Linked DNA regions of Homo sapiens. The protein of the gene in region 3 purifies or fractionates together with the protein of the main gene of each other region. This does not show direct contact. Each region holds a gene or a part of one and is shown on either strand. Other genes may lie near its edges. The genes, in order: USP33, WDR20, VSX2 and AHCYL2.

Evidence for each region.
Region 1: the proteins of VSX2 (region 3) and USP33 purify together in Homo sapiens (affinity purification with mass spectrometry; 3 studies listed by BioGRID and IntAct, with this or other methods). This does not show direct contact.
Region 2: the proteins of VSX2 (region 3) and WDR20 purify together in Homo sapiens (affinity purification with mass spectrometry; 3 studies listed by BioGRID and IntAct, with this or other methods). This does not show direct contact.
Region 4: the proteins of VSX2 (region 3) and AHCYL2 purify together in Homo sapiens (affinity purification with mass spectrometry; 3 studies listed by BioGRID and IntAct, with this or other methods). This does not show direct contact.

The regions. Positions count from the first base shown.
Region 1 is NC_000001.11:77,756,853-77,764,255, reverse strand, and holds the start of USP33 (ubiquitin carboxyl-terminal hydrolase 33), read left to right. Parts: upstream 1-4,403; 5' UTR 4,404-4,613; intron 4,614-7,403. UniProt on the Homo sapiens protein: Deubiquitinating enzyme involved in various processes such as centrosome duplication, cellular migration and beta-2 adrenergic receptor/ADRB2 recycling.
Region 2 is NC_000014.9:102,205,889-102,211,049, forward strand, and holds the end of WDR20 (WD repeat-containing protein 20), read left to right. Parts: exon of another isoform or gene 1-2,714; coding exon 2,715-3,992; 3' UTR 3,993-4,639; downstream 4,640-5,161. UniProt on the Homo sapiens protein: Regulator of deubiquitinating complexes. Activates deubiquitinating activity of complexes containing USP12. Anchors at the base of the ubiquitin-contacting loop of USP12 and remotely modulates the catalytic center of the enzyme.
Region 3 is NC_000014.9:74,242,438-74,249,467, forward strand, and holds part of VSX2 (visual system homeobox 2), read left to right. Parts: intron 1-2,727; coding exon 2,728-2,851; intron 2,852-7,030.
Region 4 is NC_000007.14:129,403,011-129,410,040, forward strand, and holds part of AHCYL2 (adenosylhomocysteinase 3), read left to right. Parts: intron 1-368; coding exon 369-475; intron 476-2,086; coding exon 2,087-2,203; intron 2,204-2,825; coding exon 2,826-2,889; intron 2,890-3,367; coding exon 3,368-3,456; intron 3,457-6,465; coding exon 6,466-6,536; intron 6,537-6,847; exon of another isoform or gene 6,848-7,030. UniProt on the Homo sapiens protein: May regulate the electrogenic sodium/bicarbonate cotransporter SLC4A4 activity and Mg(2+)-sensitivity. On the contrary of its homolog AHCYL1, does not regulate ITPR1 sensitivity to inositol 1,4,5-trisphosphate.

The DNA.
Region 1 (7,403 bases), on a different chromosome or scaffold from region 3:
AAGCCAATAAGCCAGGGAGAAGGGAGAACAAGGTAGAGGAAATGGCAGAGAATTTTTGATATTGCACTGGACAGGATTTTTTTCTAATACTAGGGGCAAAAGGCCACTTTTTTTTATTACTAGAAAATTACTGGAGGACTTTTTTTTTTTTTTTTTCTGACAGAGAGGCTCTTGCTCTGTCACCAAGCTGGAGTACAGTGGCACGATTATAGCTCACTCACTGCAGTCTCAAACTCCTGGGCTCAAGGGATCCTCCTGCCTCAGCCTCTGGAGTAGCTGTACTACAGGCATGTGCCATCGTATCCTGGTATTATTTTTTAAAATTTTTTGTAGAGGCAGAATTTCACTTTGTTAACCAGGCTGGTCTCGAACTCCTGGGCTCAACTGATCCTCCCACCTTGGCTTTGAAAAGTGTTGAATTATAGGCATGAGCCAACACACCTGGCCTGGTGGACTTTTTAATTATGTGACAGTGAGCGGAAAAGCAAAAATGCTTTGCCTAAGATTTGTTTTAAAATATATTTTTCTTTTCTTTCTTTCTTTTTTTTTTGTTCTTGTTTTTGTTTTTTGAGAGACAGGGTCTCACTCCTATTGCCCAGGCTGGAGAGGGGTGGCACAGTCATGGCTCATGACAGTCTTAATTTCCTGGGCTCAAGTGATTCTCTCACCTCACCCTCCATAGTAGCTGGGACTACAGGCATGATCCACCATGCCCGGCTAATTGTTGCAATTTTTTGTAGAGACAGGGTTTCGCCATGTTGCCCAGGCTGGTCTTGAACTCTGGTCTCAAGCAGCCGCAGCTTTCCAAAGTGTTGGGATTACAGGCATGAGCTACTGCGCCCTGCCCAGAAACATATTTTATTTTACTTTGAGACAGAGTTTTGCTCTTGTTGCCCAGGCTGGAATGCAGTGGTGCCATCTCAGCTCACTGCAACCTCCGCCGCCCGGGTTCAAGCGATTCTCCTGCCTCAGCCTCCCGAGTAGCTGGGATTATAGGTACCTGCACCACACCCAGCTAATTTTTGTATTTTTGATAGAGATGGAGTTTCATCATGTTGGCCAGGCTGGTCTCGAACTCCTGATCTCAGGTGATCCGCCCAACTCGGCCTTCCAAAGTGCTGGGATTACAGACGTGAGCCACTGGGCCCGGCCCAAAGACATATTTTAAAGCCCCAGCTTAAATCAGAGTTTCTCAATAGTGGCATTAATGATGTCTGGGACTCTCTTGTAATATCAATGCAAAGGAATGTTACTAATTCTTTCTCCCACCAATCCTCTTCAGAAATATTGCCAACTATCCACTCAGGGGACAAAACCACCCCCAGTTGAGTGCCAACAAGTTTTTGAGTCCTTCAATGCTAGGCTCTGGGAATATTGTGAATAAGATAAATACTCACTGCTCCCATTGAGGAGTTCAGGAGAGACAGGCAAAAAATTAAGTATACCAAAAAATTTAAGATAATTACAAATTATAATACATTCTCTAAAGGAAGCAAGCAGGATGCTGAAACCGGAAATAATGGGGTAAAGAGTTCTGTATTAAACAGAGAATATCTAGGTAGGAGTTAGCCAGGTGAAGGAAGGATAGAGGTTGGGAGTATCTGTAAAATTGTCTCTAAGGAAACAGCATTTACAAAGCTTTATTTAGTCTCAGGTACATAAGCACCAAAATGTATATTTTCTACGTTGCTATTTTTTACTTGCCATTACTCAGTTACAAAAATGAGAAGGTATTTGTTTTTGATAGGACCATTCAATTGTCTTCCTCCCTCCCTGTTTGTATCTCTCCTTCTTTTCTTCTTTTTCTTCCTACTCTTCATTTCTTCTTTTTTCTCCCTTTCATTAGAAGAGACTTCTTTTCTTCTTTTTCTTCCTACTCTTCATTTCTTCTTTTTTCTCCCTTTCATTAGAAGAGACTTCAGTACCTGGCCTGATGCACAACTCTAAGTCATACTATTTACATTATATTCTCCATGAACGGCACCTCTAGAATTCTGTTCCAGAATCAGTATGACTCAGCTGGGTGTCCACACACCCTCTAGAATTCTACTCCAGAATCAGTGACTCAGCTGGGTGTCCACACTTTGGAATGTATAATCTATTCTCTCAAGGGGAAGTTGATTGATTTATTTCCTAATGATAGTGTTCTTCCTTATAAGCCATTATAAGCCATCAGGAGATATTGTTTGAAGAAAAGTAAAAGATAAGCAATCTGGACTGTGGGATGAAAGGATAAACACCCAAGGGTGGGAGGCAGGAATTCACGGAAGTTAAAAGTGGGAGAGGTATTACATTATATTCTATCAGAGTGAGTTTGTTTTGTGAGAACTTGTCCACTGCAAGGACTTCACTTGGTGTCCACCTGAGAAGTACTTGCCTACTATTATCTACGCACTAGTCTCAAACTCCCGATCTCAGGTGATCTGCCCTGCTGGGCCTCCCAAAGTGCTGGGATTACAGGCATGAGCCACCGCACCTGGTGATCTTGAACAGCCTTGTCAGTTGTCTTCCTTGCATTGACACTGCCCTAGAACTCCTCCAGGACAGGTAAGCCCAGAGAGAACCTTGGTTACTAAGCAGGATGGTGGTGGGACTTGGAGGCTGAATTGAATTTGCTAGGACACTGTAAGAACAGAATACCCCTGATACATTTTCAATAGAAGAATTTCTGGGGAAGTGACTTTTGTCTATTTTTCTATTTGGTCGCCTGTTTTTTTAAAAATTGATTTCTGGAAATACATATGGAGTTGAGCCCCTTTTCAATTATATGTATTTCAAATAAATTCTATTTGCTGGCCTAACTTTTCTTCTCTCTCTGTCTCTCTTCTTTTTTTTTCTTCTGTAGATCTCCTCTGTGGACAGCTTTTTTTTTTTTTTTTTTTTTTTTTGAGACAGGGTCCTCCTCTGTTGCCCAGGCTGGAGTTCAGTGGCTCTATCTTGGCTCACTGCAACCTCTGCCTCCTGGGTTCAAGTAATTCTCCTGCCTCAGCCTCCTGAGTGGCTGGGATTACAGGCACGCGCCACCACACCTGGCTAATTTTTGTATTTTTCGTAGAGATGGGGGTTTCACCATGTTGGTCAGGCTGGTCTTGAACTCCTGACCTCAGGTAATCCACCCGCCTTGGCCTCCCAAAATGCTGGGATTACAGGTGTGAGGCTCTGTGCCCGGCTGGAGACAACTTTTCATCTCCTAACGGCATCTTTTTTTTTTTTTCCCAGAGAATATCTCACTTTGTCACCCAGGCTGAAGTGCAGTGGCACAATCATGGCTCACTGCAACCTCAAACTCCTGGTCTCAAGTGATCCTCCACTCTTAGCCTCTTGAGTAGCTGGGACTACAGGTGCCTGTCACCATGCCTGGCGAATTTTTGTATTTTTAGTAGAAATGGGGTTTCGCCATGTTGCCCAGGCTAGTCTCGAACTCAAGTGATTCACCCGCCTCGGCCTCCCAAAGTGCTGGGATTACAGGCATGAACCATGGCGCCTGCCTGTGAAACTTCTATTCTGTGAAATTTCTATTCTCCTCAGTGAACCGAGGATAGGCAATCATTTGTGGTGCAAATTGAGGCCTGAGTGTCAATCCCTACCTAGAATTTTGTATCATGGTTAATTTATTTCATTTTTACCATAAAAATAAGTAGAAGCTTTTATATTTTCTACCTATTCCAATGGAGACTGAGCATCTTGCATGATACTTTGGTACATGCTCCCATTTTGGAGACCAAAAAGTCAGATGTCATGAGACAGATTGAAACTGGCAATTTTAACAATTTTTTATTAATATAACCTTTTTTATTCATAGATTTGAACCTCAATCGAGTGCATTTTAACAGTTACATAATTAGAAGGCAGGACTCCTTCCATGCTCCAGGCATTAAGCAGATACTAAGGTTTCAATAAATATTTGATTTGATCCTCTTGATTTTAGCCTAAGGAGAAAATGGTGAGATAAATTTCTTCTTTGCATAGGTGGAAAAGGGAAACATAATTGCTTTCAGAGAATCTAGGTCCTAAGAAGTTGGGGGAAGAAAGATGAAAGGAGGAAATACAATGTTGAATTGGGATAAGTTAAGTCTAATATTTCTTTGCTCAAGTTTGGAAACCTGAGGCCCTTCAGTGGCCAGCCTTAATGCAGTTTTTGTAATGCATCGAGACAAGACCTTATAATGGTCGTAGTGTGTGACTGTGAAAGAGAAGGAGAAAACATGTGAAAAACGAAAAAAAAAAAGCTCACAGCCTCAAACTGCTGCACATACCCTGTACAGTTAGTTTGCAGTCAGAGTAGGGAGCCGGCCTGGGTCCCCGCACCTGGGCCTGGCTCCCGTGGCCCCGCCCCTGGGGCGGGCTCCCATCGAGGCTCCGCCCCCACCTCCCCTATCGCCGGAGACGCCTGCGGCGGCCCCGGAGACACCGGAAGGAGCCGCGGCTGCTGCGGGAAGTGGCCAGTTCAGGAGGCGGACCCCCCGAGGGCAGCGCTGCGGGGCCGTTTTCCGGCCCTCCTGACGCGACACTGCCCCTCTCCGAGAGCTGAGAAGGAAAAGAGGAGCTTGCGGAGGTGCGGCTGCAGGCCGTTGTTGGTCGAGCTGGCGGGTCCCGCGGGCCAGGCCGTGGAGGTGAGCGCGGCGCTGCTGGGAGGGGCGCGGGGCCCAAGGGCGTTTCGCTCGCGTCCGGGGTCCGGTCTCTGTTCTCGCTTCCGCGCGCTGGGGTTGCGGCCGCTGCAGCAGCCTCTTTTTCTTGGTCCTGGGTGGCGGCGGGTTCGCGGGCGGGAAGAAGGCCTTGGCCCCTCGGTGCTCTGCGTTGCAGAGATAATCTAGTGGTCGCCCTGTCAACGGTCGGTGGAGGATGGGAACCGGTCGTTGATTTGAGGAAGGGTCCTCAGGGGTTCTTCCCTGGAAGCGGGAGGTGCAGGTGAGCCCGAGAAGCGGGGGCTCTGCTCCCTTCCTCGGTCTCCCCACTCAGGCTTGCCAGTCCCTCTCAGTGGGTGACTGAAAGCCCTGCAGCGCGCCGGCTCCTGGGTTCTGGTTTCGCTTTTCGGCGCTGTTGAGGGGGCCGGCCCCGTTGTTTGTTGTTGTGAACGGAAAAACCGAGGTGTCATCGTCCCTGGAATTTTTCTTCGACCAATGTTTGATCTTGACTGAGAGGTTACCCCTTACCTTCTGTCCATCTGCAGCCTTTGTTTGGATGAAAGATCCATAGTGTGTGGTTTCCCAGACCTTTACTTATATTTCTCGTATACAAAACGCTCTTCATTTGAATATTTACAGGGTTTTACGTTGAGCTCTTGGACGATGAGATTTTCCTGGGTGTTTTGCACTCAAGTACCGTTGGAGTTTACATTCTCATAGAATCAGTATTAGGCCTGGAAAATTGAGCCAGAGGGTGAAATTCTGGCAGGAGCATAGACTTAAATTGAAGGTGAATTTTACCGTAACGATCTCTAGGCCTTTTGCTTAATAACTATGTGGATGTAGAGAATTTTTAAGTTTAATCAGATTATTTTTCCTTTAAGAAAAACGTGTTACAAAAAGTAACAAGGCCGTCCTAGTTCCGTTTTTCCTACTGTCTTATTTGGAAAGGTCTGACCAAGTCACATTATCGTCATAGGCTATTTGATTTGAGCATAATACAAATATTGTTAGTGAATTCATACTATTATAAATAAGAGAGAAAATAGGAATCTTAAAGACAATGCTAGTTTTATGAAAAAATAATAGAAATAGTTACACAATGCTAGGAGCTTTGTATTATTTCATTACTTTGGCAGGATTGAAAGAAAGGTCAGGGCTGGGCACGGTGGCTCACGCCTGTAATCCCAGCACTCTGGGAGGCCGACGATCACGAGGTCAGGAGATCGAGACCATCCTGGGTAATACGGTGAAACCCCGTCTGTACTAAAAATTACAAAAAATTAGCCGGGCATGGTGGCAGGTGCCTGTAGTCCCAGCTACTTGGGAGGCTGAGGCAGGAGAATGGCGTGAATCCGGGAGGCAGAGCTTGCAATGAGCCGAGATCATGCCACTGCACTCCAGCCTGGGCAGCAGAGCGAGACTCTGTCTCAAAAAAAAAAAAAAAAAAAAAAAGGACAGTACAAAAAATATTATTGGAATAAAATATTTGACCTGATATGTGCAAGAGGGATAGTCTACTTAAGATTGCTTCCTATTTATGATCTGGTTTATGGCCAGTTTCACTTTTTTTCTGTCTTTTCTGAACTTTTTATAACTTAACAGTAAGCAAGTCTTTTTATATAACTGCAGTTTAATGACATTAGATTGTAGTAAATAGGTGATTTTAAATATTTGAAATTCAGAATTGAGATGATAATTCTTACATTTATGTAGTAGTATTAGAATTTTCTGTGACCTTTCACTTACACAGTCTTACTTGATCCTCATGCCAGTCCTCTGAGCTCCGAATGCCAAGAAATAAAGTCTTTCCCCATGACAGAAACATTTCAAGATTGTGTAAGGATCAGAATTTCGTAAAGCCTGAAATAATGTTGCCAAAGCAGCTTTTGATACAGATTGGGAATTCAGATAGATTAAGATTGGAGCACTGTGAACTATAACATATGACAAGACTGTGGACTCTTCACAAGAAAATGAAGTACATAAAATGCTGAAAGATTTTTGGTGAGAAATGTGAAATGTAACCATTTCTAAAAAGGAAGGGAATAAGTAACAGCTCTATTTAGTGTAGTTTTTAAACTTTAAAAGTGTACATGTGTCTGCAGGAACATTTTGATAAGTGGGAAAACTCCAAAGAGTGTGAGATGAGTACAGTTGCTTTTAACTATCTATAAAAAGGCACATGAATTATGTGCTATATTGTATACTGAGAACTAGTCTTTAAGAAACAATATGTATATCAAAATAAATCATGCTGTCAAATGTTCAGAAGGTTAAGTTAGGTCAATATTTTGAGTCTACCAGGACAAGGCCCTTTGGAAAACAAAAAGAATGAAACGTGGTTTCTGCCTTCAAAGAACTTGTAGTCAAGTGAGGCAATTTTTTACACAACAGTAAATGCCTTATGAGTTTTTATAAAAGTTCCTTAGGAATTTAGGTGAGGTAGACATTACTTGTGATTGGGGCTTGGTGAAGGTAGTATTTGAGATGAGTGAGCTTTGAAAGGTAAATATTGGAGGATATTTGTAATGTGAACAGATTAATGAGCTCCTTGAAGGGTACAACTTACATTTGAGAAAACATCGGTAGAACAATGTGGCTGATATTCATAGTTTATGTAAGTTAATAATAGATAAAGAAGACAAATTATGAAAGACTTCACTGAAGGTGTTTGATCAGAAGAGGTATGTGATCCACATGAAAGGAAAATGAGCTGTAACTGTTAGAAGATTGAGACTGGAAGACTGCTGGGGTGGCTTTATGTTAAGCTAGATT
Region 2 (5,161 bases), about 28 Mb from region 3:
CCCCCACAGGGGGATTGAAGTAGATTGGCACAGGATGTTATCTGTAAGTTACATCCATGTGTCTACTTAGGGTCGTCTCAGTGCACTGTTTTTTTTTGTTGTTGTTTCTTTTGAGATGGAGTCTGACTTTGTCGCCCAGGCTGGAATGCAATGACGTGATCTTGGCTCACTGCACACAGCCACCGCCTCCTGGGTTCAAGTGATTCTCCTGCCTCAGCCTCCAGAGCAGCTGGGATTACAGGTTCGCACTACCATGCCCAGCTAATTTTTGTATTTTTAGTAGAGACAGGGTTTCACCATGTTGGCCAGGCTGGTCTCGAACTCCTGACCTAAAGTGATCCACCCTCCTCGGCCTCCCAAAGTGCTGGGATTACAGGCGTGAGCCGCCGCGCCTGGCCACAGTGCAGCTTCTTAATACGGGAGTGAAGGTTTTTAATGTGTTTTGTCATTGCAGTAACATTTATTTTTAATGGTGCTATAAATGCTGTTCATACCTCACTATTGCAAAGCAATACTGTTTTTACTTGATCATACTAGTTTTTGAGTTCTCATGCAGTTTTTTGTTGTGTTTTTTAAGGCCCAAAATAAAATTTACTCCTAACCGTGCTGCTAGAAGTTTTTATGTCCTGAAATTTCTCCACACATGGTAAATAGAGTAACAATGAAGTGATCCTAGAAAAACTGGGATTTGATTTGGTTCTGGTGAAATGTAAGGTGCAGGAATTGGGAGCCACTGTACCAAAATCAGGACAGCAGTCTGGCTTCCCAGGCCTGAGTTAGCTGGTGTAGGCCTGCCTGACAAGGCCAGTGATGGAGCGAGCTGCAGACACCCTTAGGCCCTGGGCGATCAGGTACAGTTGTGTTTGTGGGATCAAGAGTGCTGGGGTAGTCTGGGCCCAGTGGGCACAGCAAGGTCTGGCAGAGCTGTGATGGGGGAGTGGAGGCCTCTTAATCCACCGTTCACCATCCCATCATCCTTGCACCTCCCTCCACCATCAAAAAAAAGCCCTGCTCTGGCCATGTAAATTATCTCTGTAACCCCTTGCTGAGAAAATTGCACGAAGGTCTAATGGAAATCCTGCCAGAGCAGCGCTGGGTTTTAGGTTGTTGGCATTAGTGCAGGTCAGGTGCTGTTTATAGGTAGGTCACCAGGCAGGAGGATAAAGAGGAGGTGGGGGATGAAAATACTGGCTGTGTCCCCAAGGCTGGCTTGCCACGTGCCTATTAATTTAAGAGGACCAGCCATGCCGTTTTACGGCAGTAAGCAGTGACACCTGCTGCTGAGTAACTGCCCAATGCATGGTCCCCAGCCCTGGGCCCGCATGCTGTGTGGCGTTCAGGCCTCCGTTCTTCCTGCCTGGGGTCCTTTGTTAGCAGCCTACTTTCTAGGGTCTAATGTTCATGCAGTGAGCTTGCATGGCTCATTAATTTCTTTCCCAGCCGTTCTTTTAAAAATCAAGTCGTCTTATTTCTGTAATTCTCTGTAAAGATGTAGCACACATGGCGGGCACATGGCCTCAAAGCCACCCTGGCAGAAGTCGGCATGTTTCTTGGCAGATTCTGCCCCTGTGTGCCCAGTACCCCTCTGAGACTTGAGTCAGGGACTCCCCACCTGTTAGGTGAAGCGGTGGTGTTCAACTTACCTGGGGCTGCTGGGCTCCTAAAGGGACACTGTTACTGGGGCGATGGTGCAGTGGAGAGCACTTGGCAGTAGGAGCTTCTAGGTAGAACTTGGGAGTCTTGGGACTTCTGGATGTGTTCTGGTGATGCGATTTTGCGCTCAGACGGTCCAGAAAGGGACCGCCCCTGTGGAAGGTGTTGCGCTGGCATCCCCATCACAGGATTGATTGGCAAGCAGGGAAAGAGACTTGTGCCTTTGGTGGGGCAGGTATTTTTGCCCTTCGTTATTTGGGTTTTAAAGGCAAGACTACTGACATACGCCTGTTAAAGAAACATCTCGGTCAGGGGTCCAAAGTTAGCATATGGAGCAGAGTGATGGTAATGAGACACACACTCCCGAATGAATCGTCAGTGTATCTCTCTCAACACCAGCAGAGAGGGTTTCGAGGAGATGCTTATGGAGATGCACGTGGGGCGGTGCATGGGAGTGAGGCGGCCTCAGTGGGCCCAGGCTCTGTTTTGGAGTTGTGTGTGCTGCCAGCCATGGACTGTGGATTTCACTCCCCACCTTCGAGCCGCCAGAGCAGAGGGGCAGATGGAACCAGCCCATTACCTACAGTGACAGTAAAGGCAGAGGAACCCGTGAGGGTGAGGCAGAGCCCTCCTGGCTGTGAGGACTCACAGGCTTCACCTGCAGGTCCTCGTAGAGGGGATACCACATGCAGATGCAGTGACCCCCAGATTCAGATGCACCTACTGTCAAGGAAGAAAGATCCCAGCAGGGCTGTTCCCTCCGCAGTGAACCCTGTGCCTGGCATCGTGTCTGGCACTTAGTGGCCCCTCTGCAAATATCTGTTGGCTGCCTGACTCCCTCCGTGAAAGCCAGCAGCCTAACACCGATTTTAGAAAGTAATTCTAAATTACCCCAAAAGGGCCAAAACGCTCCTTGCTGGCTTGGCTGACTGCAGGATAAAATGTGGAGGGCCTGGATAGACTTGCCCCTTCCCATCGAGAAGCACACAAGTTTTCTTGCTGGAAAAGTAGACCTTTGAGACTTCTCCGTTGTGCTAACTTGTTCTCCTTTGTCTTCACAGAGACTAATAGACAAGTCACGAGTTACCTGTGTCAAATGGGTTCCCGGTTCGGAAAGCCTTTTCCTAGTAGCCCACTCGAGTGGGAACATGTACTTATATAATGTGGAGCACACTTGTGGCACCACAGCCCCCCACTACCAGCTTCTGAAGCAGGGAGAGAGCTTTGCCGTGCACACTTGCAAGAGCAAATCCACGAGGAACCCTCTCCTTAAGTGGACGGTGGGCGAGGGGGCCCTCAACGAGTTTGCTTTCTCCCCAGATGGCAAGTTCTTAGCGTGCGTGAGCCAGGACGGGTTTCTGCGGGTGTTCAACTTTGACTCAGTGGAGCTGCACGGTACGATGAAAAGCTACTTTGGGGGCTTGCTGTGTGTGTGCTGGAGCCCGGATGGCAAGTACATCGTGACAGGTGGGGAGGACGACTTGGTGACAGTCTGGTCCTTTGTAGACTGCCGAGTAATAGCCAGAGGCCACGGGCACAAGTCCTGGGTCAGTGTTGTAGCGTTTGACCCTTATACCACTAGTGTAGAAGAAGGTGACCCTATGGAGTTTAGTGGCAGCGATGAGGACTTCCAAGACCTTCTTCATTTTGGCAGAGATCGAGCAAATAGTACACAGTCCAGGCTCTCCAAACGGAACTCTACAGACAGCCGCCCCGTAAGTGTCACGTATCGGTTTGGTTCCGTGGGCCAGGACACACAGCTCTGTTTATGGGACCTTACAGAAGATATCCTTTTCCCTCACCAACCCCTCTCAAGAGCAAGGACACACACAAATGTCATGAATGCCACGAGTCCTCCTGCTGGAAGCAATGGGAACAGTGTTACAACACCCGGGAACTCTGTGCCGCCTCCTCTGCCACGGTCCAACAGCCTTCCACATTCAGCAGTCTCAAATGCTGGCAGCAAAAGCAGTGTCATGGACGGGGCCATTGCTTCTGGGGTCAGCAAATTTGCAACACTTTCACTACATGACCGGAAGGAGAGGCACCACGAGAAAGATCACAAGCGAAATCATAGCATGGGACACATTTCTAGCAAGAGCAGTGACAAACTGAATCTAGTTACCAAAACCAAAACGGACCCTGCTAAAACTCTGGGAACGCCCCTGTGTCCTCGAATGGAAGATGTTCCCTTGTTAGAGCCGCTGATATGTAAAAAGATAGCACATGAGAGACTGACTGTACTAATATTTCTTGAAGACTGTATAGTCACTGCTTGTCAGGAGGGATTTATTTGCACATGGGGAAGGCCTGGTAAAGTGGTAAGTTTTAATCCTTAATGCTGCACCAGATCTAGAACTTGAATAGGTAGTGACTTTTTTCTTTTTCGTGGGAGGGGTGGGGTGTACAATGAATGTGAATGACACTTCTTATTCTTAATGTAAATCTCAATGCATCAGAGCCATAATTTTGGATACTGCATGCCATGTAATTCTGAATCATTTGATAATTTACCTTAGAGCATTTAAAAAAATATAATCAAACTAATTGCCAGCCAAGTCAGTCATCCTCCTGGGAGTATATAGAGTCCCAAGGTTAGCGCTCCTGTATTAGACTATTTCAATTTTAGGAAAATCATGACCATGTGGGGAAACAATGACTTTAAAATGCTGAAATTAAAATTTATGCTTTAACTGGAATATTTTTTGCTTAACTACTCAATTAGAATATTGTACACCTGATCAATGTGTGTTCAGCACAGATGGCCATGAATTGTCATTTATAGTCCAATTTTTTATCTTAATCATAAAATGTTTAGGAATCTATGAAATTTAACTTTAGGAACAAAACGTTTAGCAGGGTTGATTGATATTATTTTTACATTGTTCTGGCAATCCACAGAAAGAGAAGAGCCTTAATTTTTAAAACCCATTTTAGTCATTTTATGACAATTAAAGTTGTTTAATAAACATCTTTTTTCAAAGAAGCAGTTTGTAGCACTTTGATTGAGGTTCTGTGTACTAAGATACCCGTACCTCACTCAGAGCCTGACAGTTCGTGGGAACTGCGGGCCGAGGACGCCAACAGCATTGCAGAAGTGCCTCTTGCCACATAAGCGAAGACCTTTTCTTCAGATGCACTTTGCTTGTGTGTTTTCCCAACAAGGGAAAAGGAGTTTTTTGGTTTTTTGCCGGGGGCGGGGAGGTGCGGTGGGGGAGGGGGATTGGGTCAGAAAGGCACGTGACTCCTCCGCGCTTTGTTTCGTAAAGCCTGAGACTCCCCGAGTCTTCCGACTTCTCCCTGACATGGCCCTCGTTTGGGCTTCGTCCCCCGCAGAGGAAGCGGAAGTGCAGGTTTCCCCTCTCCTTGTTCTTGGATGGCAGCTGTGGTTCCGGGATTACTCTTGGGATGCTGACGCTGGCCATGTGCGTAGGCTTCGTCCTCAGTGGCTCCCACCCTAGCGCCTCAGCCCAGGACCTGGTGGCCTGTGGCTTCCTCGGCAGTGGGA
Region 3 (7,030 bases):
AAACGGCCTATCCTCACCCCTTAGGCCCTAATAGGTTTTGGCTTGAATGCAGGTGAACTTCGACTTGGTTTCTCCGGATCTCGGTCTATTCTTTTTCCGGCAGCTGTTTGCATTTGTTTAGTTTGTATTGTTTTATTTTAAAAGGAAAAAGAAAAATTTTTTTGGTCTTGATCTTTGGTCTTTTTTTTTTTTTTTTACATTCAATTCATTCAACGAATATTCATTAAAACACTTTTTATGCACCCATCTTACGCGGGTCCCAGGGTGGGTAATCTTGTCATCTTCCCCAGGCAGGGACAGGGACCTTGCAGGGAGGGCAGGTCAGAGACCGGCAAAACTGCCCTTGTGCTGGTGCCAGGAGGGGTGGGAGGGGTTCCCACAGCATGGAGAGCCCTGGAAAAAGCATCCCCAAACCCTGGGTACAGGAATGGCATTTCCGCATCAGGACATCTCACTGCATGGCACTTAGTGACCGTCTGTTTTCATCTGTCACTCTCTTCGCCAGGAACACCTTTGGGGGTTTTGGTGGGTTTTCATGGGGGCAGAACAGCAACTCACCAACACTCGGGTATTAACTGCCTGGGGTTTCTATTTCTGTTGCATGAAGGGAGAAGGTTATTGGAGAGAGGAGAATGGCTACGGATTTCAAGTGCTTGTTTTAATTAGGAAAAAATACATTTTACTCGAGCTTCTGTCATTTGGGGATTTGGGGTAAGAGACCCTGGAATCTGGTGATGAGAGATGGGCTTATTTTTATCTCCCAGAAACAAACCAGACTTAAAAGCGTTTGGGGGGTGGCGTGGGGACAAAGCAGCCACGGTGAGAGTCTCTCTGATTTTGCTCTTTCTCTCTACTGGGAAAGCTCAGCTCCTCTTCAGACTGGACACAACAGGAGCCTGAAGGGTCTGGGGTTCTGCATAAACCAGGAACACAGGCTGGGTCACATTATGGGGGAAGTGTGTCAGCTCTGAGGCATGAATTAGGGAAAGTTTGGGAGATTTGAGTTTTTGTTTTGTTTTTTGAAGAGGGGCTCTCCGAAGTAGGGACTGAGACTTGAATGGTTCTACATGACCTATAATCGGCTCTCCTCTTTGACTGCCTTTGTGCCTCAGTTTCCCTGGTTTTGGAAAGGACTTGAATTTCTTTATTGTTTATTTTGATGCTCTGTCCATGGGCCCTTCAGCAGATGGCAGAAGCGAAAAAGCAGCAGATCTTCAAAATTCTCAAGAATTAACTTCGTGTGTGCATAAGCATTTCACATCATCACCCCCCACCCCCAGAGAATAGGAGAAACGATTTAGAATCAAACCAGTCATTTTCTGCAAAGAGCACAATCTTTCTTCCCTGAATTATCCCCCGAGATATTAAAGTGGACACCAGCACAAGGATTGTGTGAGGTTCAAATCTGTACTTTTGGGTTGTGTTAGACGAGGGTGAGGGCCCAGCAATAAGGGATTCTACACCCCTGTGCTGGCGCCAGAGTCTGATCCCAGGGGACCAGGCAAGGGCTGGACCATTTCTACCAGTTCAGTTTGTGGACGCTGGACTATATTGCCTGTTGGCTTGTTAATGAGGTTTCAGGATAAAGACCACCCAAAACCTGGTGAAATTAAGGTTTGAAAAGAGAAGAGTTTGTGTCTGGAAGTAGGTGTTTAGCGGTTTATTCAAGAAAGAGGACCTATGAATCCCCTAATGTTGGAGGCAAAATTTTACAAATTGGGGCCTATTTATTTGCCCATTTTCCTAAGGTGAGAGAATGTAGTTTTTACCAGATTCTTAAAGCAGTTTATAACACAAAATAGATCCATATGAACTGCTCTGTTGGGGGTGGGGAACTGTGCCTGTGGGCTCTCAGGGTGGCCCGAATGGAACCCCCTGCAGGTGAGTGGCTGAGCTTGCAAGTATGGGATGGTTGGAAGGTGGCCCTTCCCTTGTCAGCACAGAATAGGACTGGAAAAGGCTCGGGGCAGTGCTGGGAGGCTGGTAGGTCTGGGTGATGTCGAGGAAGGGCAGGGGAGGAGGAAGGGGTGCTGGGGGGAGTTGAGGGAGTGGGAGATTCAGTTCTCTGCTGTATAAACACTGAGGTTGAGGCTGCATTTGACCTTCCGGTGAATCTTCTAACTTTGAAAGGCATTCAAAAATTCAGCTCTAGTGACTGTGAGAGGGGCCCAGGAAGCTGGTCTGGGTGGAGCTGGGCTATTTAGTAATCTGGTAAGCCCCTCTTCTCTGTGCTTGGGAGGAAGAGGGGCTTTCTGCTTTTCTAGAATGTCCTTCTTCTGGGACAGCCTTTCCCCCAGAGCACCTCCAGAAAGATTCCCAGTGTGAAATGTCACTGAGGGCTGAAATAATGGCCACCCCCCAAACACAGGAAGGGTAGTGTGAGCCCTCAGCCTTGAGGAAGAAGAGTCCGGAGGGTTAAACTATGAGACAGAGAGAGAGAGAAAGTGTGTGTGTGTGTGTGTGTGTGTGTGTGTGTGTGTGTGTGTGTGTGTGAAAGAGAGAGAGAAAGTGTGTGTGTGTGTGTGTGTGTGTGTGTGTGTGTGTGAGAGAGAGAGAGAGAGAGAGAGAGACAGAGAGAGAGAGAGAGAGAGAATTTGTGTCCTATTGTGCTGAGCCAGCCTGGGTTCGGGGCCTGCCCAGGAGACACAGAGGAAGGCGGTTCTGTCTTGTCTGAGACAGGCTCTTTTAGTTTCTGGGGTCCTGAGTGTTCGGTCTTGCTCCCCTCAGGACAATCTTTACCTCCTACCAGCTAGAGGAGCTGGAGAAGGCATTCAACGAAGCCCACTACCCAGACGTCTATGCCCGGGAGATGCTGGCCATGAAAACGGAGCTGCCGGAAGACAGGATACAGGTAACAGCCCTGAGCCCCTCTCCCCTCCACTCTCCCCTCTCTCGGTGACATCTACCACTCCAGGGTTCCAGATGCCCATGACCCCGCCTCCCAGCCCCACTGTGGGCATGTGCTTGCCTATGATCATGTTCTCAGCCTATTTAAGCTGAACACCTGCCACATGAGGTGGGTGCTGTCGGGGGATGAGAAGCACCCAGTTGTGACCTGGCTGTTGTTCCAGACTATAGGCTTCCCGGGGAGTATGTCAGACAGACCCTGCGGGGGTCTGGGGATGAGAGGTGGAGTACTGGAGGGGCCCCCGGTCCTGGGCAGGGTCTCTGTTGAGGCGGAGGTCCCTTTGGTACAGCTAAATGTCTGTTCCAAGGCCAGAGGGTGCCCCAGGCCTCTGGGTAGCTGTGAAGAGGAAGGTGGCTTCTAGTCCTGACCCCAGTCTGTTTCCCTCCCCTCTCCTCCCCTCCCCATGATGAAAGTGTTACCCCTTCTCTTCCTGCTTCCCACCACTCCATCCACCTAAGGCTCCTTCCTCCCACACACAGCCCAGCAACTGCTGCCCTGACCTGCTGCTCCTTTTCTTCTCCCAGGTTTGGCCTAGGATGTGAGCTGGGGCATGGCCCTGCAGGTGGCTCACTAAGCCCTCCTCCTCTCCTGGGCAGTTTTGTGGCATAACTAGCCACTGATCTGGGCATGTGGTAGGCATGGGGCCTCCACTTAGCGGCAGCAGGACCTTGGCAAGTCCAGAGTCCCCTACTTGGGCAGGAGTAGGGCTGTGGAATCATTTCTCTGGGGGAGGATGGAGTCTGGGCAGGGCCTCCATGAGGCAGAAGGAGTGGGGTGGGAGGAACATTTCCAGAAGATTTGGGGTTGTCTTAGCTGGTGCTCAACCTTCAATGAAAGCTGCTCCCATCGCCTGAGCGGTCCAGAGCTAGTTCATTGCGGAGGCTGGGGTGTGTGGGCCAGGGGCTGGTCCTGACTTCCTGGAACTGCTCTGCTCTGCGTCTCCTCCCCAGTCTAGGTTCCTTGTATCTCCAGGTGTGATGTGTGCCTGGGAGGCCGGGGGAGCCAAGTAAGGTGTGTGGGTTGCTCTGTACTCTCTCACTGGAGGACCAGAGAATGTGAAATGAGGCTGTGAGGCCTTCCTCTCCCCTGGAAATCTATTTGGAATTTCAGCCGATGGTTTTAGACATTGACACTAACAATAAGCTCAATTATTCATAAGCAGATTATGTTTGGTGCATTATCCATGGGGGCCTGGACCCATTACCCTCCACCCAATTGGGTTCTTGTGAGGTAAGCTGGGCGTTGATGTTGAATTGTGTGTGTGCACGTGTGTGCGTGTGTGTAAGCCAAGCCTTAAACTGCACGGCAGTAACCCCTGCCTGGCCTTCATTAGCATAAAGTTGGCCATTCCAGGTGGCTGCGGCAGGGAGGAGCAATGACAAATCCCCGCTGTTGGCAGGCCCCACATTTGCGGTATTGACCAGAATGAAGGAATAGCTTGTCTCTTGCAGTGGGTTGTCCTGAAATCTGCTTGGTAGATTAGGTGGGGGAGGGTGGATGAGGTGTTTGAAACCTGCTGAGCTCAGGATTTGGGGGCAGGCTCTCCCTCAGCTGTAACTGCATTGCTACGAATGCCCCAACAGGCACATTTAACTTAACAGGGCTTTGTTAAGTTGCTTGGGGGTTGCCTATAAGGTGGTATCTGAGGGCACCAGAACCAGCAGGAAGGAGCTTGGGGTGTGGGATGAGGAGAGCTCATCGCCCTGGGACTGTGAGGATTGGCTCTGCAATTTGTGGATATCGGAGAAATGAGGAAAGAGTCTCAGAGCCTTTGAGCACCACATGCCTGAATGCTACCCCCAGAAGCTGTCTGTGAGTTGTCAAGTCCTCTTGCCCCAGTTCAGTAAAGTGGCCTGGGAAAGATCTTGGTGTGCATCAATAGCAGTCACAGCGATCGTTTCCAGAGGAGTTTCCATGTGCCAGGTGTTCTCCTGAGTTCACGATGTACACAGGACAGGCAGGGTGGTACCATGGTTAGGGTCACTGACTCTGGGGCCAGACTGGCTGGGCTCCTGGCCGGGCTTCACATGCCAGAGCCTCTCAGTCTTCATCTGTACAATGGGGGTGACAGTGGCACCTGCCTCTTGTGTGGAGGTAATGAGCCATATGTGTGCAGCATTCAGGGCAGTGCCTGGCACGTGCCCCCAGCTCACTCGGTGTCAGATCTGATCTTATTAAGTCCTGGTGACAATCAGGGGCTGAAGACCATGAATTTCCTTTGAGAACTGAGGCAGCTGAGGCACAGCCTCTTGCCCAGGCCCCACAGCTAGTAAGTGGGAGACACAAGACTCAAACCTAACTCTGAATCGAAAGCCCACAGTGGCACTGCCCACCTCTTCTGTTTGAAGTCTTTGCTTTGACTTGAAGCTGGGGGAGCATAGGTGATTTGAAGTCAGGCGGGGGACCTGTATCACAGTAAAGTTAATCAATGTTTATTGAGTACCAGGCACTGTTTAAAAAAAAAAAAACAGCCCAAAACTCACTTATATAACAAAATTATTTTTGAATGGGCAAATTCTGTACATGAATTCAAGAGGGTGAAAAGCAAGTCCTCGCCCTCCCTCGACCAGCAGCCCACCTGTGTCTTTCATTTCCTCACAGAGCTAGTTCATGTATATTCAGCAGAGTCCTCAGAACACCCATGAGCTAGGGGCTATTACTCTCATTTGACAGATGGGGAACCTGAGGCACAGACAGAGGCCAGAGTTGAGTCTCTTTAGACTCCAAAACCCTTGCTTTTCTACCTTGACTTCCCTCCCCATCATTTCCCCTCCACGTGTTGGCCGCCACTCCTGAGCCAGCCCCCTCCCAGCCTAGCTTTGGGTCAGAGGACTCTGCAGGTGAGACGAGCAGGAAAGGGGAAGTTATTACTGGCTCCAAGTCTGGAGTTAGAAATTCTCGGCCACGCAGTGGCTCAGGCCTGTAATCCTAGCACTTTGGGAATCTGAGGTGGGAGGATTGCTTGAGCCCAGCAGTTTGAGACCAGGCTAAAAAAAAAAAAAAAAACAAAAAAAACCAAAAACGAGACCCTGTCTTGGAAGAAAAGAAAAGAAATTCCTGGCCAGGTGCAGGGGCTCATGCCGGTAATCTCAGCCCTTTGGGAGGCTGAGGTGGAAGAATTCCTTGAGTCCAGGAGTTTGAGCCCAGCCTGGACAACATAGTGAAATCCCCATCTCTACAAAAAAAAATTTAAAAATTAGCCGAGCATGGTGATGTAAGCCTGTGGTCCCAGCTACTCAAGAAGCTGAGATGGGAGGACCACTTGAGCCCAAGAGGTAGAGGCTACAGTGAGCTGTAATCGCACCACTGCACTCTAGCCTGGGTGACAGAGTGAGACTCTGTCTCAAAAACAAACGAACAAAAAAAAAAAACAGAGAGAAATTATCAAGTTGGAATGGAAAGGTTATTGAACTGGAGATCAGGAACCCGGATTTTAGCTCCAACTGACATCTGGTGTGGCAGAGGCTAGGCCACTTCCCATCTGTGAGCCTCAGTTTCCCCATCTGTAGAAGAAAGAGGTGAGATCCCTTCCAGGGAGGTGCCTCCTGAGTATTCCCCCACCACAAGCCCCTGGGCTGCCATTGGTAGAATGGGGGTGCAGGGCAGGTTAAGTTTAACAGGCCCAGATGGACCGCTGGAGCATACACCCCTGCTGGGCCAAGCCAAGAAACCCCTGCATGTCTGAAGTCTACTGTCTGATGTCTGATGAGAACCTGCGATGTAGACGCGGAAAGGCAGACACACCTACTTCCAGTCTTTGTTTCACTGCCAGCAAGCCAAACCCTGAGTCTGAAATTACTCATTTGTAAGATAATAATATTTTTTCATAATGCTAACTTAATAAAAACAGTGTTGTTACTGGCATTTATTAAGTACTCACCATTGTCCCAGATATTAAGTGCTTTCCATACCTCGTTTCTTCTCTTTTTCTTCTTTTTTTTTAGAGACAGGGTCTCACTGTGTCACCCAGTCTGGAGTGCAGTGGTGTGATCTCGGCTCACCGAAGCCTCTGCCTCCCAGGCTTAAGCAATTCTCCTGCCTCAGCCTCTTGAGTAGCTGGGACTACAGGTGCCCACCACCATGCCTGGCTAATTTTTGTATTTTTAGAGAGACGAGTTTTTG
Region 4 (7,030 bases), on a different chromosome or scaffold from region 3:
CCTTTAGGCTTTCTGAATACCTATAGTAGATTCAAGATCTAGTGGCCTAGTAACTACAAGTTACCAATCCATAAGAAAATCCTCGGTTAGTTGCTGTATATTTTGATACAGTAGATATGTCACGGGGAGGGTCGTTTGGCTGCGCGAATTACAATTGGCCTTTCTCCTCTCATTGTCTTTTACTTCAATATAATGACTATTTGGCAGATTATTGTATTTACTCTGGCTTTAAGTTACTTTGCATAACCATATGGGAAATTTTAAATATCTGTAAATTGCTAATTAGATTGGGATGCAAGACCCAGAGAAGCACTGAAGCCTTGAGACTTCAGCAAAGTGAATGATGTTATTGATGCTTACTATTGCAGATCTTGGATGATGGAGGGGATCTTACCCACTGGATTTATAAAAAGTATCCCAACATGTTTAAGAAAATCAAGGGCATAGTAGAGGAGAGTGTTACTGGAGTTCACAGGTAAGATTTGACATGGGCATACCTGGTTTTATGCAGTCTAGACATAAAATCTTATAAACACATACCTATAAAACACATGTTAAAAATTGGAGCCTGGGCCAGGCGCGGTGGCTCACGCCTGTAATCCCAGCACTTTGGGAGGCTGAGGTGGGCGGATCACGAGGTCAGGAGATCAAGACCATCCTGGCTAACACGGTGAAACCCCGTCTCTACTAAAAATACAAAAAAATTAGCCTGGTGTGGTGGGCGCCTGTGGTCCCAGCTACTCGGGAGGCTGAGGGAGGAGAATGGCATGAACCCAGGAGGCGGAGCTTGCAGTGAGCAGAGATCATGCCACTGCACTCCAGCCTGGGTGACAGAGCGAGACTCCATCTCAAAAAAAAAAAAAAAAAAAAAAAAAAAAAAATTGGAGCCTGCTATGAGGTAACCACATCTCAGCTTGCTATGAGGTGACCAGATCTCAGCTTGCTATGAGGTGAGCAGATCTCTCTTGTTTTTTTTTTTTAATTAACAACACAAATAATGAACCTAAAATAGTGAGAAGGGGGCAGGTGGGAGAACAAGTGAAGTCCTCATGTTTTCTAGTGATTGTAAACAATTAACTTGTCCTTTTTGGACACATATATTCATTCATTCATTCAACAAATATTTATTGAACTTCTACAATGAATGAGGAACTGCTCTAGATGCTAGGAATCTAGCAGTAGACAAAACAGACAGAAAAAAACTCTGCCATCTTAGAGCTTACATTCTTACATGGAGAGCAAGGATGTAGGGTTCTGCTTCTCAAATGAGTAATAATTCTCTGAGTAAAATTGGAATTATTTCAGTTCAATTTCTGTGATCATTTCTATGATTTATTTCACCCATAAAGAACTAAAAGTATGAAAAAAAAAAGTTGTAGGGAAGTAAATTCTGAACCAGCCACCATCACTGCTTCAATACATTATCATCTTTTTGAATGTACAAAACTGAGGTCAGGAGTTCAAGACCAGCCTGGCCAACGTGGTGAAACCCCGTCTCTACTAAAAATACAAAAATTAGCTGAGTGTGGTGGCGGGCGCCTATAATCCCAGCTACTCAGGAGTCTGAAGCACAAAAATCGCTTGAACCCTGGAGGCAGAGGTTGCAGTAAGCTGAGATCACACCATTGCTCTCCAGCGGGGACAACAAGAGTGAGACTCCATCTCAAAACAAACAAACAAACAATAAAAGCACAAACAGCCAGGCGTAGTCTCATGCACTTGTAGTTCTGGCAGGCAGGGAGACCAGTGCAGATTTAGTGAACATTGTACCTAGTAGGTAATTTTTCAACCTTCAACCCGCTCCCACTCTCCCACTTTTTATAGTCTCCAGTGAAGGCCTTAAAATTTAGAGGTGGGTCAAGGATTTCCCCCACATGACTTTTGAATAAAATCTTTATTGTGAAGCTATATATGCAGGCTCTAGAAAGATATTCTTTATTTCTCAGTGGCCACCTAACAGGATGAAACTAGTCATGTCTCATGGTCTCATGCCTACCCAATCAACGTATTTCTGGGGCCTCCTATGAAAGCAATGGTAGATTGTAATGTCCTGGTGTTTTTTGTTCTTGGCTTCCCTCATCCTCAGGCTGTACCAACTGTCCAAAGCTGGGAAGCTGTGTGTTCCAGCCATGAATGTCAATGACTCAGTCACCAAACAGAAATTTGACAACCTCTACTGTTGCCGTGAATCAATTCTTGATGGGTAATGTTTATTATCTTTGAGATGAAGTTGTGATGTCCAGTTGAGATTCTAAGTTTTTTGGCTTTGGTTATTTCTGGAAAGGATTCATGTAGCACCTCTGGATAATGTCTCCATAAAGCCAGAGCTTTGTCACCTCATAAATTAAAATTACATTATTTTTATTTTCTCCTTTGTATCTTTTCTATTTCTAAATATTATATTTTCAAAATATTATCTAATAAATGTATGTTGCTTTTATGTTTAAAAGTTACTGTGTTATCTACATCTTCTTCCTTTCTGCACCACTTGCAAGAAAGGGGAAAAAAAAAGGAAAAAAACCCTTACATATAGGATTGGTTAGATGGCAGGGAGTGAGAAAATATGTATTTTATTTAACCTTCCTGTCTGGTCATTAGTTTCTCTAGGATAGAAACCAGACTTTCAGTGTTACAGGTCTTTTAGAATTTGTCTAGCAGGTTTTCTGGTCTTTACCAGAAAACCCCTTTAAAAAAATAAAGAAACCAGACTTTCTTTCAAAATGAAAAACCAACCAAAAAACCCCATGAAAACAAAGAGATTCAATCTAACCTCAAGGGAGAAACAAGAGAAGATTTTTCTGATTTAATGTTTTTTTTTCCCCTAGACTTAAAAGGACAACAGACATGATGTTTGGTGGAAAGCAAGTGGTAGTCTGTGGCTATGGAGAGGTGAAGTTTAACCTTTTGTTTATTAGGTGTTTTAAATGGATTTTGTTGAAATATTCTGGAATTTTTTATTTGTATGGACATATGAGTACACCCTTTACCACTTTAGATGAGAAAAAGAATTTCAGAGGCCTTCTGGTTGAAGTAGACTTTCTTTTTCCCTTTGCGTTGCCGCCATTTTCCCTTAAGTTGATTTTCTGACTTGCTCCAGTACCACCGTTTGTGATGTTCTTTTTAGCTTGTGTTTTAATTATGAATCGTGAGTGTGGGTGTTCTTGTGCACATGAATGCGATAAGCAGGAGCCAGGGGTTTGTTTATGAGCTGCATTCAATTATTTGTTCTTCTCGTTTTCCCCAAGTATGAATCTATTCAGTGAAATTCCTCTCGGGGGTGGAAAGAGGGGGTGCACTTTACCAGAAGCTTTGAGAAATGGTTTTCTCAGTGACTTTCCTTAATATGTGTGCTCTCTCCCCTCTTCAGGTGGGGAAAGGGTGCTGTGCTGCCCTGAAAGCCATGGGCTCCATTGTGTATGTAACTGAAATTGACCCCATCTGTGCCCTGCAAGCCTGGTAAGCCTCTACGCTACCATCTCACTTGCAATCTCGGAGCTGTCTCCAAAGAATGGCCTGGTTGATGCCACACTTTATTTTAGAGGAGCCCAGATCCTCAGAGATGCTGCCACTAACTCTAAGCATCTGTCTTTTAAAAAGGTCAAGGAGCTCTGCTTGGAGAGAGCAGAGACTATCAGAAAAGCGAAAATTTAGAAATCCTGTGGAGATAGTAACAGGGATTCTGTCAGCCAGAGAACAGGTAGCCCCTTACCTTCTCCATGTATGATACTTGCCTTTCAAATAATGATCAGAAAAGAAATTGGCAGGCATCAGATGCCTTCTGATGTGTTACACTGAAAATAGCCCTTCTGTGGTATTCCTCCCAAAAATGTATAACCTGAATCTAATTGTGAGGAAACATTAGACCAATCCCAGTTAAGGGTAAAATCTACTAACTCTGAGTGAAGCATATATGAGAATTATTTACACTAGTATTATAATTCTTAAGTTTGAAATGATTCTAAAATTAAAAGTTAAAACTTTTCTTATCTATAAAATGTGTGTAATCATACCTACCTCATAGGATTGTGAGAGTTCAGTAAAATAATAATTAGCATAGGCTGGGTGTAATGGGTTCATGCCTGTAATCCCAGCACTTTGGGAGGCTGAGGCAGGAGGATTGCTTGCGCCCAGGAGTTCGAGACCAGCCTTGGCAACATAGGGAGACCCCATCTCTACAAATAATTTTTTTAAATTAGCTGGGTGTGGTGGTGCATGCCTGTGGTCCCAGCTACTTGGGAGGCTGAAGTATGAGTATCACCTAAGCCTGGGAGGTGGAGGCTGCAGTGAGTTGTGATTATGCCACTACGCTCCAGCCTGGGTGACCCAGCAAGACCATGTCTCAAAATAATTATTATTCTATATTATACATTATATAACAAATACATAATTATATAAGGTACAGAGCTGCTGCCACATAATATATGCTCATTAAATAATAGCTGTTATTAAAATTGTCTCTTGCCATCCTCAGCAGGGTGGGAAATACCACTGTTCTTAAAAACTATTGCAGAGTCCAAGTGTCTGTAGCCTAGGGGAACCATCATCCTTCTGGTACACTAAGAGTTTAGGAACCTGAACATATTTTAATACAAATTGATACTGTTCAGATACTGAACAGTTCAGATTATCCTGTTCAGATTATCCTGTAGACACGAATTGATCACTTACTATGCATTAGATACTGTGCTATGTGCTGAGAATGAATAAGATGAATATATAAATGAGATAAGGTCCTGCTTTTAGAAGCACACAGACAGATAACCACTGTGCAGCAAAGTAAGTGCTGTCATGGAGTTAAACGGCACATGCTTCTGTAGGAGCATAAAGGAGAAATTGCTTACTGAAGAGCAAGGGAGCAGGGTAGAAAGAGATGTCAGCAGAGCTGAGTCTTGACATTTGTATAGGTGTTTTCTTAGTTTGGAAGTATATTCCAGGTACTGGGAACATGTGTGTTGTCTCCAAGGAAGGAGATAGCATGGCAGATTTAAGAAGCTAGAAATATTTTAATGTAGTTGGCAGATGAAATACATTTGGGGGAGTGGTACTATCTAAGGTAGGAGTCATGGGAGTCATATGTCAATATAATCACATATCACTGTAAGTATTTGGGTCTTACTCTTATCCTGTCTTATCCTTAAGAACAGGCAGTCTCACTGAAGTATTTTAAGGAAAGGAAGCGACATGATCCAAATTGCATTTAGGAAAATCACTCTGCCAAATGATTTAGAAAGATGTAAACCTAGAGGCAATGAGATTGGGCCAGGGGTTACTATAGTAATCTAGGCAAGAAGTAATAAGACCTAAACTTAAGCAAGGCCAGTATGTATTAGAGAAGAGTAGAGAGATGAAAGAGACGTTTATGGAATTAAAGAAAAAGAGTCACCCAGATTTGGTGACAACTTCAATTCAGGAGAGGCAGCAAGGACATTCTTGTTTATATGGCTCATTCAGTTGGATGAACAGTGATGCTATTGATCAAGATAGAAAATATAGAAGAAGAAATAGATGAGATTATGGGTGCAGAGAAAATAATAAGTTTATTTTCAAACACAGTAAGTTTGAGATCCTTCTGGGACATTGATGAGGTGCTATCCAGTGGCTAATTTGATCCTTGGCTATGAAGCTTCAGAGAGATCTAAGCTAAAGTTACAAATGTAAAAATCAGCCATCTATCAGCAGTCATTTGCAGCCAAAGGAAGAGTATGGTTCTCTATACTGAAAGAATAGAGAAAAGAATAAAGGCATAACCCTGCAGAGCACCAATATCCAAAGGTTGGCTGAAGTTGAGGAGAGGCAATTAAGAGAAGTAAGAGGAAAACCAGGAGAGATGTATCATGGAGTCCAAGGGGTATAGAGTTTTAAGAAGGCAAATAATGTTTAATGTAGTAGAAGAAATCAAATAATATAAGAGTCTAAGAAGTTGGGCATGGTGGTGTATGCCAATAGTCCTGGCTACTCAGGAGGCTGAGGCAGGAGGATTGCTTGAGGCCAAGAGTTAGAGGCTGTAGTGCACTATGATTATGCCTGTGACTAGCTACTGCACTCCAGCCTGGGCAGCATAGTGAGATCCCATCTCTAAAAAAAAAAAAACACACACAGTTAAGAGTCTAAGAAATCTTGGGTTTGGCCTTCGGGGGATCACTGATGATCTTGGAGAGAGCAGTTTCAATGGGGTAGTTGGTTAAATGGCTAAGTGGCACTTTCTACAGTTTCTAGAAATTTGGTCAGGGAATCTCATGGTAGCCCCTGGCTCCCTATTATCAGGAAGAAATAAGTTCCGTGATGCAAACGAACCTTTTATTTCTGTCTTGTATGAACTAAGGAAATTGTTTGGATTTTTCACTTCTAAGAATAGTTCAGCTATCTCAAGAAATGACAGCAACTTGATATTAGCTTTTGAAGTCCTGTGTTAAAAGGCTCCCCAGCTGCCTGTTTAGGTTAATGGGTCATGCTTTATTTCAACAGTATGGATGGATTTCGACTGGTGAAATTAAATGAGGTCATCCGACAAGTGGACATTGTTATTACCTGTACAGGTATGATAATGACATTTTAAATGGGGTGGCACTTGGGAATGTTTTTATGGAGCAGGTGCAAGATGATTGGAAATATTCTGAAAAACCAAACTCTAAAAGCTAGAGAGAGATAGTAGCCCACAAAGCCAGCCAGTCTTTCACATTCTTCCTAATTCTTTAGAGCTCCGACCAAAGGTATACGATTAGGTTATTCCTATGTAAAAATGTTTCTCTTCACCCTTGAAGACAACTGTTATATCTCCATTCATCCTAGGAGATAGCTAGAGATGAGATTCACTTATAAAGTTTTATTTGGGAAGCCAGATATTTTTTTTTTCCAAAAATATATTTATTTTTAAAAACAGAAAATCAGATCAGTTTTATAGAGTCAAATTTTCAAGAGACAAACCAGAGTTTGGATTCCAGCTTAGAGTGCAAGTGAAGCATCAGTAATCTCATGCAGAAGATTTGTCTCTGCAGGAGGTACATTCTGCTTGACTGCAAGCACTCAATTC